3 linked regions of the Homo sapiens genome follow. The gene in region 3 interacts genetically with the main gene of each other region. Each region holds a gene or a part of one and is shown on either strand. Other genes may lie near its edges.

The links. Genes that interact genetically often act in the same process or in processes that back each other up.
Region 1: of LEO1 (region 3) and NDUFA8, a change in one rescues a mutant of the other (synthetic rescue), as found in Homo sapiens cells (one study listed by BioGRID).
Region 2: of LEO1 (region 3) and MRPS5, a change in one rescues a mutant of the other (synthetic rescue), as found in Homo sapiens cells (one study listed by BioGRID).

The regions. Positions count from the first base shown.
Region 1 is NC_000009.12:122,156,745-122,163,823, forward strand, and holds the start of NDUFA8 (NADH dehydrogenase [ubiquinone] 1 alpha subcomplex subunit 8), read right to left. Parts: upstream 3,036-7,079; 5' UTR 2,934-3,035; coding exon 2,883-2,933; intron 1-2,882. Other genes in the region: MORN5 (MORN repeat-containing protein 5), read left to right, coding at 3,229-3,275. UniProt on the Homo sapiens protein: Accessory subunit of the mitochondrial membrane respiratory chain NADH dehydrogenase (Complex I), that is believed not to be involved in catalysis. Complex I functions in the transfer of electrons from NADH to the respiratory chain.
Region 2 is NC_000002.12:95,084,834-95,090,814, forward strand, and holds the end of MRPS5 (small ribosomal subunit protein uS5m), read right to left. Parts: intron 5,690-5,981; coding exon 5,553-5,689; intron 2,749-5,552; coding exon 2,524-2,748; 3' UTR 536-2,523; downstream 1-535.
Region 3 is NC_000015.10:51,937,494-51,940,788, reverse strand, and holds the end of LEO1 (RNA polymerase-associated protein LEO1), read left to right. Parts: intron 1-2,503; coding exon of another isoform or gene 2,504-2,528; coding exon 2,529-2,633; 3' UTR 2,634-2,764; downstream 2,765-3,295. UniProt on the Homo sapiens protein: Component of the PAF1 complex (PAF1C) which has multiple functions during transcription by RNA polymerase II and is implicated in regulation of development and maintenance of embryonic stem cell pluripotency.

The DNA of each region.
Region 1 (7,079 bases), on a different chromosome or scaffold from region 3:
TTCCCTACCTCCAATATCTAATCCATTGCTAAGTCTGATCAATTCTAGATATACTTGTTCTTTGCTCTCTGTAAGCACAGTCTCTGTAAGCACCAATTACACTGGGATCATTAACATCTTTCTCAATAATTTTAAGAGCCACTGAGACTAGTCTCCCTGCTTTTCTTTTTCTTTCTTCAATCCATTCTTCACACAGCTGCTACCGTGATCTCCCTAAATGACAATTCTTATTTTACTCTGCTATTATATTAGCAACCAAACTCTCATTCAGCCTTAACAGCAGAATAAAGCCTAAACTTCTTAACGGGTACTGAAAGGCTTCTGGACCCAAACTATCTTTCCACCCTTCTCACCACAACATTTCAAAAAGGGACTGACTATTTACTGTTCTCTCAAAACACTGAACTCCTTTTTGACTCTCTGCATTTTCCCATCTCCTTACTTTTGCTCAGACCCTACCCTCACTTAGAGGGGTCTTCTCTTCATCTCCGCCCATAAATGCCATTCTTCATATGCCATTTAGTCATGTCTTACATTATGTCCAAAAAGTGCTTTCTCTATTCCCTTTATAGTTTCAGAGAATTTTATAGCTGGGATCACCTCATCTTACAAATAACCATGTCTGCAAATGCTAAAATCAAGTAATCAAGGTGACCGGCAGGTAGGCCTAGAATTTAGATACAACTTCAAATCTTTTCCTAAACCACATCTTCCCCCTTTCATAGTATTTAATCACACCTTGTCTTGTATTTTAGTTATTTATGTAATTATTCGTATGTTCATTCAATTGTGTGAAGACTAAAGGCAAATGTATTTCAGATACATCAGTTGTATGAAGTAGAACTTCAGATGTTTGTTGAACCTAATAAAAATTGCAACAAGAAATACAGCAACTCAAGATTAACCCAGCTACATGGGGTGGGGGCAGGGGGGTGGTTCGCCGGGGGGAACAAAAGAGTGGGGGCCACATGGCAGCTCCCCTCTGCCACCTCAGAGTAAATGTCACTTTAATATAATAAAGTCCCTGAACATAGCTAATAATTTCTTCCTCTGAGGAAAATAACAGTTGCCACTCTCACAGGCATCTAAGATTAAATGAAGCATTGCAGGTAGAAGACTTAACATACGGCCAGGCGCGGTGGCTCACGCCTGTAATCCCAGCACTTTGGGAGGCCGAGGCAGGCAGATTACGAGGTCAGGAGATCGAAACCATCCTGGCTAACACGGTGAAACCCCGTCTCTACTAAAAATACACAATATTAGCCGGGTGTGGTGATGAGCGCCTGTAGTCGCAGTTACTCGGGAGGCTGAGGCAGCAGAATCGCTTGAACCCGGGAGGCGGAGGTTGCAGTGGGCCAATATCGCGCCACTGCACTCCAGCCTGGGCAACAGAGCGAGACTCTCAAAAACAACAAAACAAACAAACAAAACACTTAACATAGTGCCGGGTATATCATTGCTGGTACATCATTTCTAGTCTTGGCCTTCCTCTCCTTTAATATAGCCTGTTCTACTATCCAGCCCTGCCATGACACTCCTCTGCCTTAAAACCTTCCACTCTTCCCACCACCTCCCTTACTGGATCAAGTCCAAACTGTTTGGTCTGGCCTTGTAGAAGCTGCTTCCAAGTCCTATCTCAGCCCAAGTTGCCTCTCCAGGCTCAGCACCTGCTGCTTCCCACCACCACCACTAGGGTCACATCAAACTGTACTTGGCTCCCTAAACACACAAGTTCTGCTAGGCCGTCTCATTCTTGTGAGTTTTCACCCATAATATAGTGGAAAAGCATTGGTTTTAAAATCAGACTTGGGTTCACTTCCAGCTCTATTACTTACGAGCTCCGTGACCTTGGGCAAATCATTTCTACTCTCGGGGACTAATTCCTTATTTATAACGCTACGACCAATTGTGTGTGTGTGTGTATATATATATATATGACCAATTGTGTGTGTGTATATATATATGGTATATACATATATATATATACACCAATTGTGTATATATATATATGGTATATATATATACACACCAATTGTGTGTGTGTATATATATGTGTATGTGTGTGTATATATATATATATCCTACCTTATAGTGTTGCTGGGAGGATTCAATGAATTAATGCATGGAAAGTAATTAGCATCCTGCCTGGTATCTAGAAAGGACTTGATCATGTTAGCTATAATTAGTAGGGTATGTTTCTACTTCACTCCTCACAGCACTAACTACATTGTACTGTGACTGCCTCTTTATGTGTCTGTCTCCCTACTGGATTGTAAAGTCCATGAAAGCACGAAGTATATCTCTTCCAGCGTTATGTGTACACGTTAATTACTGAAATGATATCTCTTGAATAAACGAATGCTTTAAATGGGTCCTGTTACCAAACACCTTCCCAAGGCTGTGAGTAGATGCACGCTCCAATATTGTCTCATTTTCCCGCGGCTTCGTCACCCCACTCTATGCACTCTGCACCGGTGATACCACTTTAAGGTAGATGACCGTCTCCCTCGACTGTGAGCCCCTAGGGTTGTATACTCACCTCGCATGCAAGTTTGAGGATTAAGCGACATAAGCTAAGTAAAATGACTGGTTGGTGCTTAATAAAATGTATCACTATTATTCACGGAAGGAGAAATAGGTCGCTGTGGAGGGCGAAAGGGGGAGGATTCTAGAGCCACTGCAAGATGCGACAGGGTGGGGTAGAGAGGGGAGGCGACTCCCAAAGCTGCGGAGGGGACCTCCGGGGGTCGACCTGTATATGCGTTGGAGGACTGGGGAGGGGGGCCCGGGTCCCAGGATCCGCGGAGCCCAAGGGGGGCTAGGCCCAGGCCCGAGAAGCCGCAGCCCCATGTCTCCCTTGCCTGTCCTCCGGATAGCCTCACCTCATCTACTTTCAGCTCCTCTAGAGTGGGCAGCTCCACTATCCCCGGCATGACGGCTGCAGCCCCGACCCCGACGAGAAGCCCTCAGCCGCGTCGCCCCCGTCTCCTTGAACTCCCCTTTCGACCGCCGAGTGCCACACGGCGCCTGCGCATGCGCATCCGGCAACACGCAGGCGTATTGCCCTGCCCAACCACGAGCGAGGGAGCGTGCGCAATACCAAGAACTTTTCAGCCTCCAGCGGGGTGGGGCTTCGATTCGGCTCCGCCCACCCCTCCAGGTTGTCATAGTGATGCCGTATCCACTGAGACTCCGGATCCTAACAGCTGGAAGCTAAAAACAGGCGCCATGGAGTACACAGGGAGCAAATATATCGGGGAATATGTAGATGGGAGGTAAGGGGCTCATTTGATTCACTTACTATACCTTGAATAGCTGTGACTGGAAAAAGACGGCTTTTTGCTTCTGCGAAACACCTTGTGCCAGGCACTTTCACAAACTTGCCCGAGTAATTTTTTCAAGGACCATATCTAATAAGCAGCAAAGCTAAGATGCATTCATTCCATATATACTTATATGTGTGTGTGCATTGACTGTGTGTGTGTGCTATCTGCCAGTTTTAAACATAGGAATAAGAATATTTAAAATGTCAAGATCCTTGCTCTTATGGAGTTTATAATCCAGTTGGAGATGTATTGCCAATAAACAAATAAGTGATAAAATAATTACAGATAATGGTAAATGCTATAAAAACAAACACGAAGATTAGGGAAGAGAGACTGGCTAATCTGAATCTACACGGTCGCTTCCTTCCAGGAGGAGTTCACGATCTAGGGATTATTATAGAGGATTATATACACAAATCACTGTAGTGGACTAGTAGTAAAAAACAATTCAACAGTTTTTTTTTCTTTTCTTTTCCTTCCTTCCTTCCTTCCTTTTTTCCTTCCTTCCTTCCTTCCTACCTTCCTCTCTTTCTTTCTTTCTCTCTCGTTTTTGTTTTATTTTCAGACAAGATCTCGCTCTGTTGCCCTGGCTGGAGTGCAGTGGCCTGTTCACTGCTTACTGCAGCCTCAACCCCCTAGGCTCAAACAATCTTCCCACCTCAGCCTCCCAAGTAGCTGAGACTACCGGTGTGCACCACTACCCCCAGCAAATTTTTCAACGCCTTTTGTAGAGACGGCATCTTGCTATGTTGTCCAAGCTGGTCTCATACTCCTGGGCTCAAGTGATCCTCTTGCATGAGCCACCGTGCCCAGCAATTCAACAATGTTGAGTGGCTACCGAGTACCAGGCCCTGTAATTGACTCTGGGCACAATCCCTGTCTTCAGAAAGTTCATTCAAACATGATGCGACAAGTAGACATAACAGATAACTGCGATTCAGTGTGGTAAGAGCTGTAGTAGAGAGAAGCAGAGGAAACACAGAGGTGGCCACTCTTTTTTGCCAACCACCCTGGATGAAGAAAGTGGAATCTCTGTTTTTATAGCTGAGGAAACCAAGGCTGGACGATATGAAGTGGTTTGCTGAACCAGTGCTAGTTGTCGGGACTGTGAAGCACTCCCACCTTGGGGCTCTGTATTCACAAGTTGGTGGAATTCCAGGGCATTCTGAGTTAATAGGAAAGAGGGATCTGTGGTCTGGACAGGGATAGGAGATAGATTCCTAGAGAGGGTGGTAGGAATGCTATGGGATGCTATCTCTCTAATCATTACATCAATTTTGCAAGGAAGATGTTATTATCTTTCCAGGTAAGAAAGGTGACCCTTACAGGGCTTGAGACACTTATCCTACTCAGCAGGTAAGTGGCAGAGGTGCTTGGTGTGTACTCCCTCTCACTACTCAGTGAGATAGTTCAGGCTGACCTTGCAAATAAAGGAACAGAAGTTAGGAGAAGCAAAATGACTGGCCCACCATTATGGATACACAGCTAGGAAGTAACAGAGTCAGGATTTGAACCCAATCCTCTGTCCAAACCACATTCTTACTTTTCACAAGGCTCTGCTACAGTGAAGGTGGTAGAATTTTGGCAGATAGAGATGGGGTATTGGGCATTTTAGGCACAAAAAGTTGAGAAACTACATTAATTTTCGATGGGCTGTATATGGGTGAGAGAGAAACACACAGACAAGGTAAAAGACGGAAGGCTTTCAACCATTTGCCTTTGGCCTTCTGTGTATTTTCATTGGGTTTGTGTGCTGAATCAGCCATTTCCATGCTTTGGCCCTAGGAATTTGGGCTTTGCTTGAGGTTGTCTGGTACCTCTGTAACCACGATAGGGATTCCCAGACCTGAACAGGGCTTCCCAATTTCCCATAACTAGCAAGAAGTCAGCAGTTTTTCACTTGTTATACTTCTTTTCATAAGTTGGACATGTGTTGTTCTGTACTGATTTTGTATTTTTAACAACAGTTAACTAGAATTCTATTTGGGGCATCTCAAATTTCAGCATGTAATGAGAGGATGAGACAGGTCTGGGCTCAAGTCTGCCATTTGCTTGTTGTACACTTAATTAACCATCCATACCTCAGTTTCCTCATCTGTAAAATGGGAAAGCAATGCACATTCAGCAGCAGTGTTCCAAGGAATATGTAATGATCATATATGGATGTTATTTACAAATGGTAGATACTCAATCAATTTTTTTTAATTTAGGGAGGGGATATTTTCCTCTTGGAGTTTAAATGAATAGAGTAACCTCTCTATACAGTAGGAAGTTGATATTTAACGTTTGGTTTAAAAAGTTTATGTAGACTCTCCATGGCTGATAGGAACATCAAATGGTACGACTGCTTTGGAAAAGTTTGGCAGTTTCTTGAAAAGTTAAACAGCCATTCCACTTATAGGTATTTACCCCAGAAATGAAAGTGTATATATACACAAAGACATGTATACAAGTACTCATAGCAGCCTTATTTATAATAACCAAAACTAGAAACAAACCCAAATGTCATCAACAGGGGAATGAAGAAACTAATTGTGGTATATCCATTCATTGGAATACTACTCAGCAATAAAAAGGAGTGAACTATTGGTACACAGAACAACATGAATGAATCTCAAAAAATTATGTTAAGTGAAAGAAGCCAGACAAAAAAAGAGTAGATACTGTATGATTCCATTTATGTAAAATTCTAGAAAATGCAAATCTATGGTGACAGAAAGTAGATCAGTAGTCACCTAGAGATGAGGATTGTGGGCAGGGGCAAGGAGGAAGTATTACAGAAAGGCATGCAGAAACTTTTGTGGGGAGTAGATATTTTGTCTTGATTGTGATGATGTTTTCCCAGGTGATGTCAAAACGTGTCAAATTGTACACTTTAAACACGTGGCCTATTGTATGTCAATTACACTTCAATGTATCTACTTAAAAAAAAAACCTTAAAAGAGACATGATTTCCCTGTACCACGTGTGAATATTAAAAAAAAAAAGGTTAATGTAGTATCTGTCTGACCTCAATATTATGGTTTCTTTGGAGTAGTCGCACAATTGAGTTCTAGATAACTCCACTCCAAAGCACCACAAGGTAAGTGCCAGAAGAGACCTACAGACACAGGGGAGGAAGGGACGCCCATAGCATTTATGTAGTAACTACTGTGCTCTGGGTGGCTTTGCCTGCATCTTCTCTTCACAGGGACTCTTTGAGATAGATATCATTATCCTATTTTACAGATGGGAAAAGTAAGGCTCGGAGTAAACCTGCCCAAAGTCACCCAGTTAGCATTTGGCAGAGCAGGTATTAAAACCCAGGTCGATCAGACTGTAAAGCCCACAGGCTTCCTACAATAGAGCCCTGCTGCTGTGGCCCTTCAGAGGCCACATACAGTCGGAGCCGTCCTTAAAGGCTTCGTGGAAGAGATAGTATTTGAAATGGGCCTTGAAGGTTGGGTAGGATTTAGGTGGTTGGAGATGCAAGGTGAAGAATTCTTTTTCTAGAAGTTTTTAGGCAGAGGGAACAGCATGAGCAATAGCCCAGAGGGCACGTATGGAGTAGAGCTGGCAGTTCAGTTTGGCAGGAGAGTGGGTTGTGCCCAGAGGAGTTATGCAAAGGGAAGCTGGACAGGCGGTCTGTGCTCTGGCAAAGAAATTTCAATACCGTGCACAATTCTGGTGGTGGAGGAACCACTGATAGATCCTGGTAGGGCCAAGCATCAGGAAATAAAACTTATTTCATCTCTGTAACTCTCCTCATAATGC
Region 2 (5,981 bases), on a different chromosome or scaffold from region 3:
GATTTATTAGATGCCAAGTATTGTATATTTTACTTTATTGGGTATATTTTTTGTATTCCTATATTCTTGAGCTTTGTTCTGGAACACAATTAAGTTACTTTGAAACAGTTGTGTTCCAGTTTGGTCTTGTTTTTAAGCTTTCTGAGTTGGGACCAGGGGTAGTTTTTATGTAGAGTTAATTTTTCTACTACTAGGGCATCTTAGTTCTCTTCCAATGCCACCTAGATTACAAGGTTTTCCACTGTGACTGTTGATAACAGGCACTATTTTCCACTCCAAACACTGTTCCCTCTAATTCTTTTGGGTGAGTTTCCTCACCGGCATGCACTATTAGTGTGTAACTAAATATCTGATGGAAACTCTCTGCAGATCTTAGTTCTCCTGCTGTGCAACTCTCTCCTCCAAGGCATTCTCCCCTGTGAACTCTAGTCATTTCGACTGCCCAACTGCACCTCAACTCCAGGAGACCGCCAGGTCCTGATGGGGTAACCCTTCCTAGAACCACGGACTCTCCGCAGATAGTAAGTACAGATAATTTTGTTTCCCCTCTCCAAAGGATCATTGTCTTTTATTGCTTAAAGTTCATTGTCTTTATATTTGTTAGGTACTTAAGAAGGAAAACTAACAGGACAGATAAGTTTTAGGAAATAACTACCTTACTCTAGCAAAATACCACACACAAAAAAAGGGGACCCACCCACACCAGACAACGTCACAGGCTGAAAACTTTCACCATCCAGCCTAACATGGCCTGCTCCCTATCCCACGGTGCCATTAGGGTGCTCCTCCTACTTCCAGCAGAAAGGCCTCAGCAGAGGTCCCGAGGACAGCGACAGGAGGAAACCTGGATCTCCATCCTCACCAGGCAGTAACGAGGCAGTGCCCCATCCCATACCAGCACCGTCAGAGGAAGCATGCTGAGAGATTTAAATAACTCCCAGAGCTTCATAACAGTGAAGATGACCAGGATACAGCCAAAGTCACTCATCATAACAAGAACTAGGACATTGTAAACTTGAATGAGAAAAAACCTCAAGGGATGTCAACACTAAGATGACACAGATGTTGAAACTTTATGACAATTTTTTTTTTTTTTTTGGAGACAAGGTCTCACTCTGCCACCCAGGCTGGAGTGGCATGAACAAGGCTCACTGCAGCCTCAACCTCCTGCAATCAAATGATCCTCCCACTTCAGCCTCCTATGTAGCTGGGACTACAGGCATACACCACCATGTGTGTCTAACTTTTAAATTTACTTTTACTTTTTGTAGAGATGAGGTCTCACTTTGTTGCCTAGGCTGATCTCAAACTCCTGGGCTGAAGCAATCCTCCTGCCTCACCTTCACAAAGTGCTGGGGTTATAGGCGTGAGCCACCACACCTACCTGATGACAAAGATTTTAAAGCAGCCACCATAAAAATGCTTCAGTGAGCAATTATAAACACTCTTGAAGCCATTTAAAGAAAAAAAAAGTCTCAGCAAATAGCCTCAGCAAATAAAGAGAAGACATAAAAAATAAACCAAATGGAAATTTTAACTGAAATATACAATGACAGTCAAAGTTAAAGTACTGCATGGATGGTTCAAGAGCAGAATGGAAAGGAAAGAGTAAATAACCAGTTATTCTGAAGATAAAACAATAGAAATTACCTAAACTGAGCAACACAGAGAAAACAGACTGGAAAAAAAATAAACAGCGCCTCAGGGACTCACGGGACAATAGTAAAAGATTCAACATTTTGGTCATCAGTGTCCCAGAAAGAGGATGTGGGTGGGGCAGAAAGAGTATGCAAAGAAATAAAAATATATATATTCCACAGAATGGGTAAAAACTTCTGTAAAGCATGTATGATAGGGGGGCTTATATCTAGAAACTATAAGGAACTCAATAATAATAAAAAATAACTTTTTAAATGGGCAAAGGCTCTGAATAGACATTTCTCCAAAAAACATATACAAATGGCCAATCAGCACATGAAAAGATGTTCAACATCATCAGCCATCAGGGAAATACAAGTCAAAATTGCAATGGTATACAATTAATATACCATTTAACATTCCCAATAGTAGCCTACAACTTCCATTTCCACTGTGGAAAACGGTTTGGAAGTTCCTCACGGTAGTCAAGTTACTTAACTGCTCTGTAAAATGAAGTTAATCACATTCACTTTGGATGAATGAGTTCATATATATTAGCTATAATTACTACAGCAATTATCATTGTGTACATTATTACTGATTGGGTCAAATTATTAACCCCGTCTCCCTAATTCATTTACTTTTGTTACTTTGGATGAATATTTAAAGTAGTCTTGAACTGAGATATGTATGTAAAGGTTCTATCACATTGGCATATAACATGTGCTCAACAAATGAAAGCTATAATTATTTATTTCCAAAGAGTTTAAAGATTAAACTTCCCTCAAAACAAACAAAAGGCAAGGTAACATCCCAAGCTGTGAGGGGCTGAGTCTCTCCTAGGTGCAGGGCAGCACAGGAACTGGCTGCACAAGGCCAGAGAGGTTACGTGGCGGCTCTCTTCAAATTAGACCACACAGAGCGCTTCATTCCCTGTGCAGTCTTCACATCTTCCCAGTCCAGTTTGACGTCTGGAACCTCATCTTCTGGCTCTGGATCCTTCCTCAAGGGCCCCCGGGGGGACGCAACCACAATGGGCAGAGGGCCACATTCCTCCCGGATTTCCACAACATGGAGGCCCTTCTTATCAGCCAGCTGTTGATGGGTTTCCTAAGCAAGACCAAATTCAGAACAGGTTAGGTCTGAAGTACATTTGCAACATAAAGAGCAGGAACTTCCACAGGCCACAACAGTACAGCCTGGGGGTATTCAAAGGCCATTTCAGTGGATTTGGGTTAATGTGTTTTGTGGCTAAACTCTAATAACCTGTCATGGGTGGAGTCATTTCAGCCTCATCTGCTGCATCTGCCCACCCCAAACTTGGATAGAGGAAGGGCCTTGGCCTCTGGTCTCTTGCCTTCTAAACCCTCCTGATTATGCACCATGCTGTGCCAAACACTGAACTTGAATCTCACCAACCCCCTAGATCTAACTACCAATTTACAGTAAATATAGGGGAGATAAGACACTAAGGACCCTACAGGTATTTTAGTCAGCAACAGGCCAGGAAGCACTACAAAACAAACAACCTGGTTTCCTCAACAAAAAATCATAAGCGGGGCGGGGGTGGGGGAAGAGGAGGGGAACCTATTTAAAAGGCATAGCAAAAACATACATTAACCTGTTCTGCAACCTGATTCAAACACATTGTGTAAAAAAAAAAAAAATTTTTTTTAATCTAACAAATGGAATTTGCTCATTTGTATGAACATTGATTGGATATTTGATGATACAAGTTACTGTTAACTTTTTAGGTATGATAATAGTATTACAGGGTATTTTTTAAAATCCTCATCTTTTCGAAGATACATACTAAAATATTTAGGGTTGAAATAAAATGTCTGAGATTTGGTTCAAAATAACTGGGGGTGTACTAAGAAGCAAGACTGGTCATGAGCTGGGTAACAGGGCCATGGGGATTCACTGCAGAGGGAAGCCACAGAGATCTGGAAGCAGGCAGATTAGTTCAGTAGACGTTATTCATGGTACAATGACATACCTGCTATGTCAATCCCGTGATCCCAGGCCTTATGGCTGCCTTGCACTATTCTAATTATATATCTAATGCCCTGCAGTATGTGTGAAATTAGAAAACAGATGAGCCATTTCATAAACAAAATAATTTATATTGGTGTATCTTTCAATCAAAGGCATATCACCTAAAGTGGTGGCATCTTTTCCTTTTTGAGTGACATATTAAATAATGCAACCTTTTATAGCTGATGGCATTTTAGGAGAGATGACATATGGTAACTATATCAGAAGGTTTAAAAGACTAAAAGAAAACAAAGATATCACATAAAAGAACAAGTCTAGGCTGGGCGCGGTGGCTCACGCCTGTAATCCCAGCACTTTGGGAGGCCAAGGCGGGTGGATCACGAGGTCAGGAGTTCAAGACCAGCCTGACCAACATGGTGAAACCCCATCTCTATTAAAAATACAAAAATTAGCCGGGCATGGTGGCACGTGCCTGTAGTCCCAGCTACTCAGGAGGCTGAGGCAGGAGAATCGCTTGAACCCGTGAGGCGGAGGTTGCAGTGAGCTGAGATGGAGCCACTGCACTCCAAGCCTTGGTGACAGAGCAAGACTCTGTCTCAAAAAGCAAAAACAAACAAACCAAAAACCAAAAACAGAACAAGTCTACTGGATCATAAATACAACCTATCTAAAATCAACATCTTAATTAAACCTCTAATGTTTCAATTTACAAGTGCTCTGAAGGGTGTTTTAGACAGTAACACACACAAAAGCTGTTCAGAAAACAGAAGGCTTTTACCCAAAGCCTTCTTTTTCTTTTAATTTTCCTACTTTAAACAGAGACATGTAAAATTACTCCATGGATCACTTTACCTAAAACCCACCACTGTACTCCTGAAATGTCAGGAAGCCTGCCAAAGTCCTCAGCTAACAGAGTTCAGCAAATGGAGCCTATTGAACCTGGTTGTCTTTTCTGTTCATCCACCTATGCTAAGGTCTACCCATCCTTTCAAGAGACAGGCCAGCCCTCCTGGGCAGGTAGGGGAGCTGCCCAAGAATGGGGGCCCGGTGCAGTCACAGCCCTGCCCTCCATGGTGGGTGATTGGGAGCCGGGCCCAGGGCTCCCACCTATGAGGAAAAGTAACCTGATATGTTAATGTTCATAGTTCCCTACCAACCCAGGCATCAGTCCGAACCACCTACACAGGTAACAGGGAACTGACTGTGCCTGCCCTGTGTGCAGAGGTGCCCTGGGTGCTTCATCCTAGCCCCAACTGAAAGGACTAAATTAGGAAATGAACTTTCTCTTTTGATTTTACTTTTCTATACTGTTGGAGCTTTAGAACAAGCAGGTGTTATTTTCATAATAACATGTAGATTGTAATTATTGGCTTTAAAAATGCTGCTTAGAAAAACCCATGAAGTACTTTTTAAAAGGTAATTTTCAGGCCGGGCGCGGTGGCTCACACCTGTAATCCCAGCACTTTGGGAGGCCGAGGCGGGCGGATCACGAGGTCAGGAGATCGAGACCATCCCGGCTAAAACGGTGAAACCCCGTCTCTACTAAAAATACAAAAAATTAGCCGGGCGTAGTGGCGGGCGCCTGTAGTCCCAGCTACTTGGGAGGCTGAGGCAGGAGAATGGCGTGAACCCGGGAGGCGGAGCTTGCAGTGAGCCGGGATCCCGCCACTGCACTCCAGCCTGGGTGACAGAGCGAGACTCCGTCTCAAAAAAAAAAAAAAAAAAAAAAAAGGTAATTTTCATGAACTTGTCAATGGATTTAACTAAACTGATGCAGTCACAGACAACAAAGAATGCCCAACTCCTCAGGTGGCCCCAGGAAAGCATCTCCAGGAGGCCCCAGGGCATCGTAGCCCCAACACACACAACTGAAATACAAACTAGAACCTCTGTTTCAGACCCCGGGAAAGGATTACCTGTCTGGAGAGCCCACGGAAGAGGCCCTGGGTGAGGCTGAGCATATTAATGGACCCAGAGACCTTGGCATACATGTCTTTGATGCCAATGAGCCGGCAGATGGTGATGATGGCCCTGTGGCAGCGGAGGCCGTAACCTAGAAAAGGAGAAACCGGGTGAAACACAGCCCACTCGCCTGCAGCCGGAGGAGTCACCCTGCTGGCTTTCGCATGGCTTCAGGCTCTGGGCTTCGGGAAACTGGTTCATATTCTGGTATCACCACTTCCTAGTGAGCTGACCCTTGACAACTTACTTAACTTCCAAGATGACACTTACTCAAACAGGATACTACAAGGATTAAGAAGATGACATCTACAAATATCTTGAACACATTTTGAGGGCAAAAAAACAGGATTGTTATTGAGATTAATAAACATGCATGAAAATTC
Region 3 (3,295 bases):
TTTTGTAGCAATTATAATTTTTTTTTTTGGTAAAGACAAAATGTCTTACCATGTTGCCCAGGTTGGTCTCACTCAAACTCCTGGCCTCAAGTGATCCTCCCACTTTGGCCTCCCAAAGCCCTGCGTTTACAGGTATGAGCCACTGCACCCATTCCCTTTGCTGTGTTTTTCTGTGCTTATGTGTAGCTGCCAGAGAAGTCAGTCCTTGGCAGGCCTTTTTTTTTTTTTGAGACGGAGTCTCGCTCTGTCGCCCAGGCTGGAGTGTGGTGGTGTGGTCTCAGCTCACTGCAACCTCCATCTCCCGGGTTTAAGCAATTCCCTTGCCTCAGCCTCCCAAGTAGCTGGGATTACAGGTGCCCGCCATCACGCCTGGCTAATTTTTTTGTAGTTTTAGTAGAGATGGGGTTTCACCATGTTGGCTGGGCTGGTCTTGAACTCCTGACCTCGTGATCTGCCCACCTCGGCCTCCCAAAGTGCTGGGATTACAGGCGTGAGCCACCACGCCCAACCTTTTTTTTTTTTTTTTTTTTTTTTGATACGGAGTCTCCCTCTGTCGCCCAGGCTGGAGAGCAGTGGTGTGATTTCTGCCCACTGCAACCTCCACCTCCTGGGTTCAAGTGATTCTCCTGCCTCAGCCTCCTGAGTAGCTGGGATTACAGGCATGCGCCACCACGCCTGGCTAATTTTTTGTATTTTTAGTAGAGACGGGGTTTCACTGTCTTGGTCAGGCTGGTTTCAAACTCCTGACCTCGTGATCTGCCCGCCTTGGCCTCCCAAAGTGCTGGGATTACAGGCGTGAGCCATCGCGCCCGGCCGGTCCTTGGCAGGCTTTCTAAAGCAGAATTTCACAGCTTCTTACTCCAGAGGATGGATTAGGACTGGTGCCAGTGAGACTTCTTTGGGAGAGCCCTGGCCATCTCCTGGCTGCTGCTGTCCAGGGGCCTTTAGGACAGGCTGTACCATCTTTTAGAATTACCATGCTAGTTCTTTTAGTGATTCAAATTTCATCTCATTAAAGGATTTTAGAGCTGAAAAGACAAACACACCAAGGCTCACTTTTGGAAGGTTACCAAAAAATAGTGATTGCATGTAAAACGTTTTAAGATTTTTCCTTTGGAAATTAAAAGACAAGTAGTGTGATTGAATGTGCTCTTTGCCTGTGGCGCTGGGAGTATTTGGGTTTGCTCTAGCCTGCAGAATAGAAAGGAGGGGCTCTTGTCCCTTCTTGGGGGCAGGGTCCATCTTTCAATATTGCTGTTTAGGTATTTCACTGCTGTCAGCTGGGAAGTAAATGGAGGAGGAGGACTTCTCTAAATACCTTACTGTGGATTCATAACTTCCCCCCTTTGAATTCTATGGCCTTTCAGGTCTGTGGGAATGTATTTGGGATAATAAGGCAGGAAACAAGTGTGAGATGCTATCTTGTCTGTCAGAGGGCCAGCCATGAGAACCATCAGAAAAAAGTGGGCATACCAGGTTGCATTCTCCATCTAGCAGCCTGTGGTCACAGCAGCAAGATGTCTGGCTTTCCCTAACTTCAACCTTCAAACCATTTGTTCATCCCATTTAATTTTTAATTTTTATTTATTTATTTATTTTTGAGACGGAGTCTTGCTTGCTCTGTTGCCCAGGCCGGAGTATAGTGGTGCGATCTCAGCTTACTGCAACCTTCGCCTCCTGGGTTCAAGTGATTCTCCTGCCTCAGTCTCTCGAGTAGCTGGGATTACAGGCGTGCGCCACCACACCTGGCTAATTTTTGTATTTTTAGTAGAGATGGAGTTTTGCCATGTTGGCCAGTCTGGTCTCAAACTCCTGACCTCAGGTGATCCACCCCCTTTGGCCTCCCAAAGTGCTGGGATTACAGGCATGAGCCATCATGCCCGGCCCATCCCATTTAGTGTCAGTTTGTTTTAATCAGTATTTGATATTTAGATACTGACATGTTCAAATTCTATCTATCTGTAAAAAATGTTTTTTAGGTAACTTCCTAAATTATTTGTTTCTGTTAGAACGTTTGTACAGAATGATTTTAAACAGAGGAAACTTGTTTATAGATGCCCTTTAATGTCATCAAATATTTTCTTAAAAACCTTTATGATGTTTTTAATGCATTGAAACAAATTGTTCCAAAAAAACCAAATCAACAGTCTTTAAAATACTGAATTTTAGATAATGAAAAGAAGTGAAATGCTGAGGAGGCAGAGAAAAAAAATTTGAGAAATTACCTGATCATGGTAAAAATATCCTGACAGGACCAGTGGTTAGACAGGCAGAACTTCCTCGGGAGAGCCCCGCCCCTTCTGTGGCAAATCCTGTCTCCAGTTTCCTGCACATCCTACTCTGTGTTCAAAGGTTTCCCTGTGAGAGATTAGTTCACAGTTGCTGACACCTCACAATCTCCCTCACAACCTGCAGGAACCGTTACTTTGAGTTGTCAGAGGGTCATTCAGCTCATAGCTACTTTTCATAAACCATCCTAAAAATGTTCTTTATTGACTTGTAGATTTGTAAAAATTGTATCTGTTTAGGAAGGTGAACCTTCCGGAAAGAGAAAAGCAGAAGATGATGATAAAGCAAATAAAAAGCATAAGAAGTATGTGATCAGCGATGAAGAGGAAGAAGATGATGATTGAAGTATGAAATATGAAAACATTTTATATATTTTATTGTACAGTTATAAATATGTAAACATGAGTTATTTTGATTGAAATGAATCGATTTGCTTTTGTGTAATTTTAATTGTAATAAAACAATTTAAAAGCAAGTCTCTATGTTTAAGAAATCTACTTTTCCGGCCAGGCGCGGTGGCTCATGCCTGTAATCCCAGCACTTCGGGAGGCCGAGGCAGGTGGATCACAAGGTCGTGGTGGCGGGTGCCTGTAGTCGCAGCTACTCGGGAGGCTGAGGCGGGGGAATTGGTTGAACCCAGGAGGCAGAGGTTGCAGTTAGCCGAGATCGCGCCACTGCACTCCAGCCTGGCGACAGAGCAAGACTCTGTCTCAAAAAAAAAAAAAAATCTACTTTTCCCAAAGCGAACTGATTTTGTTAATGCTTTAAACAAACAAAGTCTTAGGTCTCAGTGAATTCCTGCTGCTCTCTCAACCCCCTTCCTCTCATTCCCCACAAAGAAGCCTTCTGGGCCAGGCTGAGATTCTCTCACAATTCTGGAGACTTGGAGTCCAAAATCAAGGTGTGGGACGGCCATGCTGCCTCTGAAGATTCTTGACAGGGATCCTTCCTTGCCTCTCAGTTTCTGGTAGTTCCTGGTGATCTGTGGCTTTTGACAGTATGACTT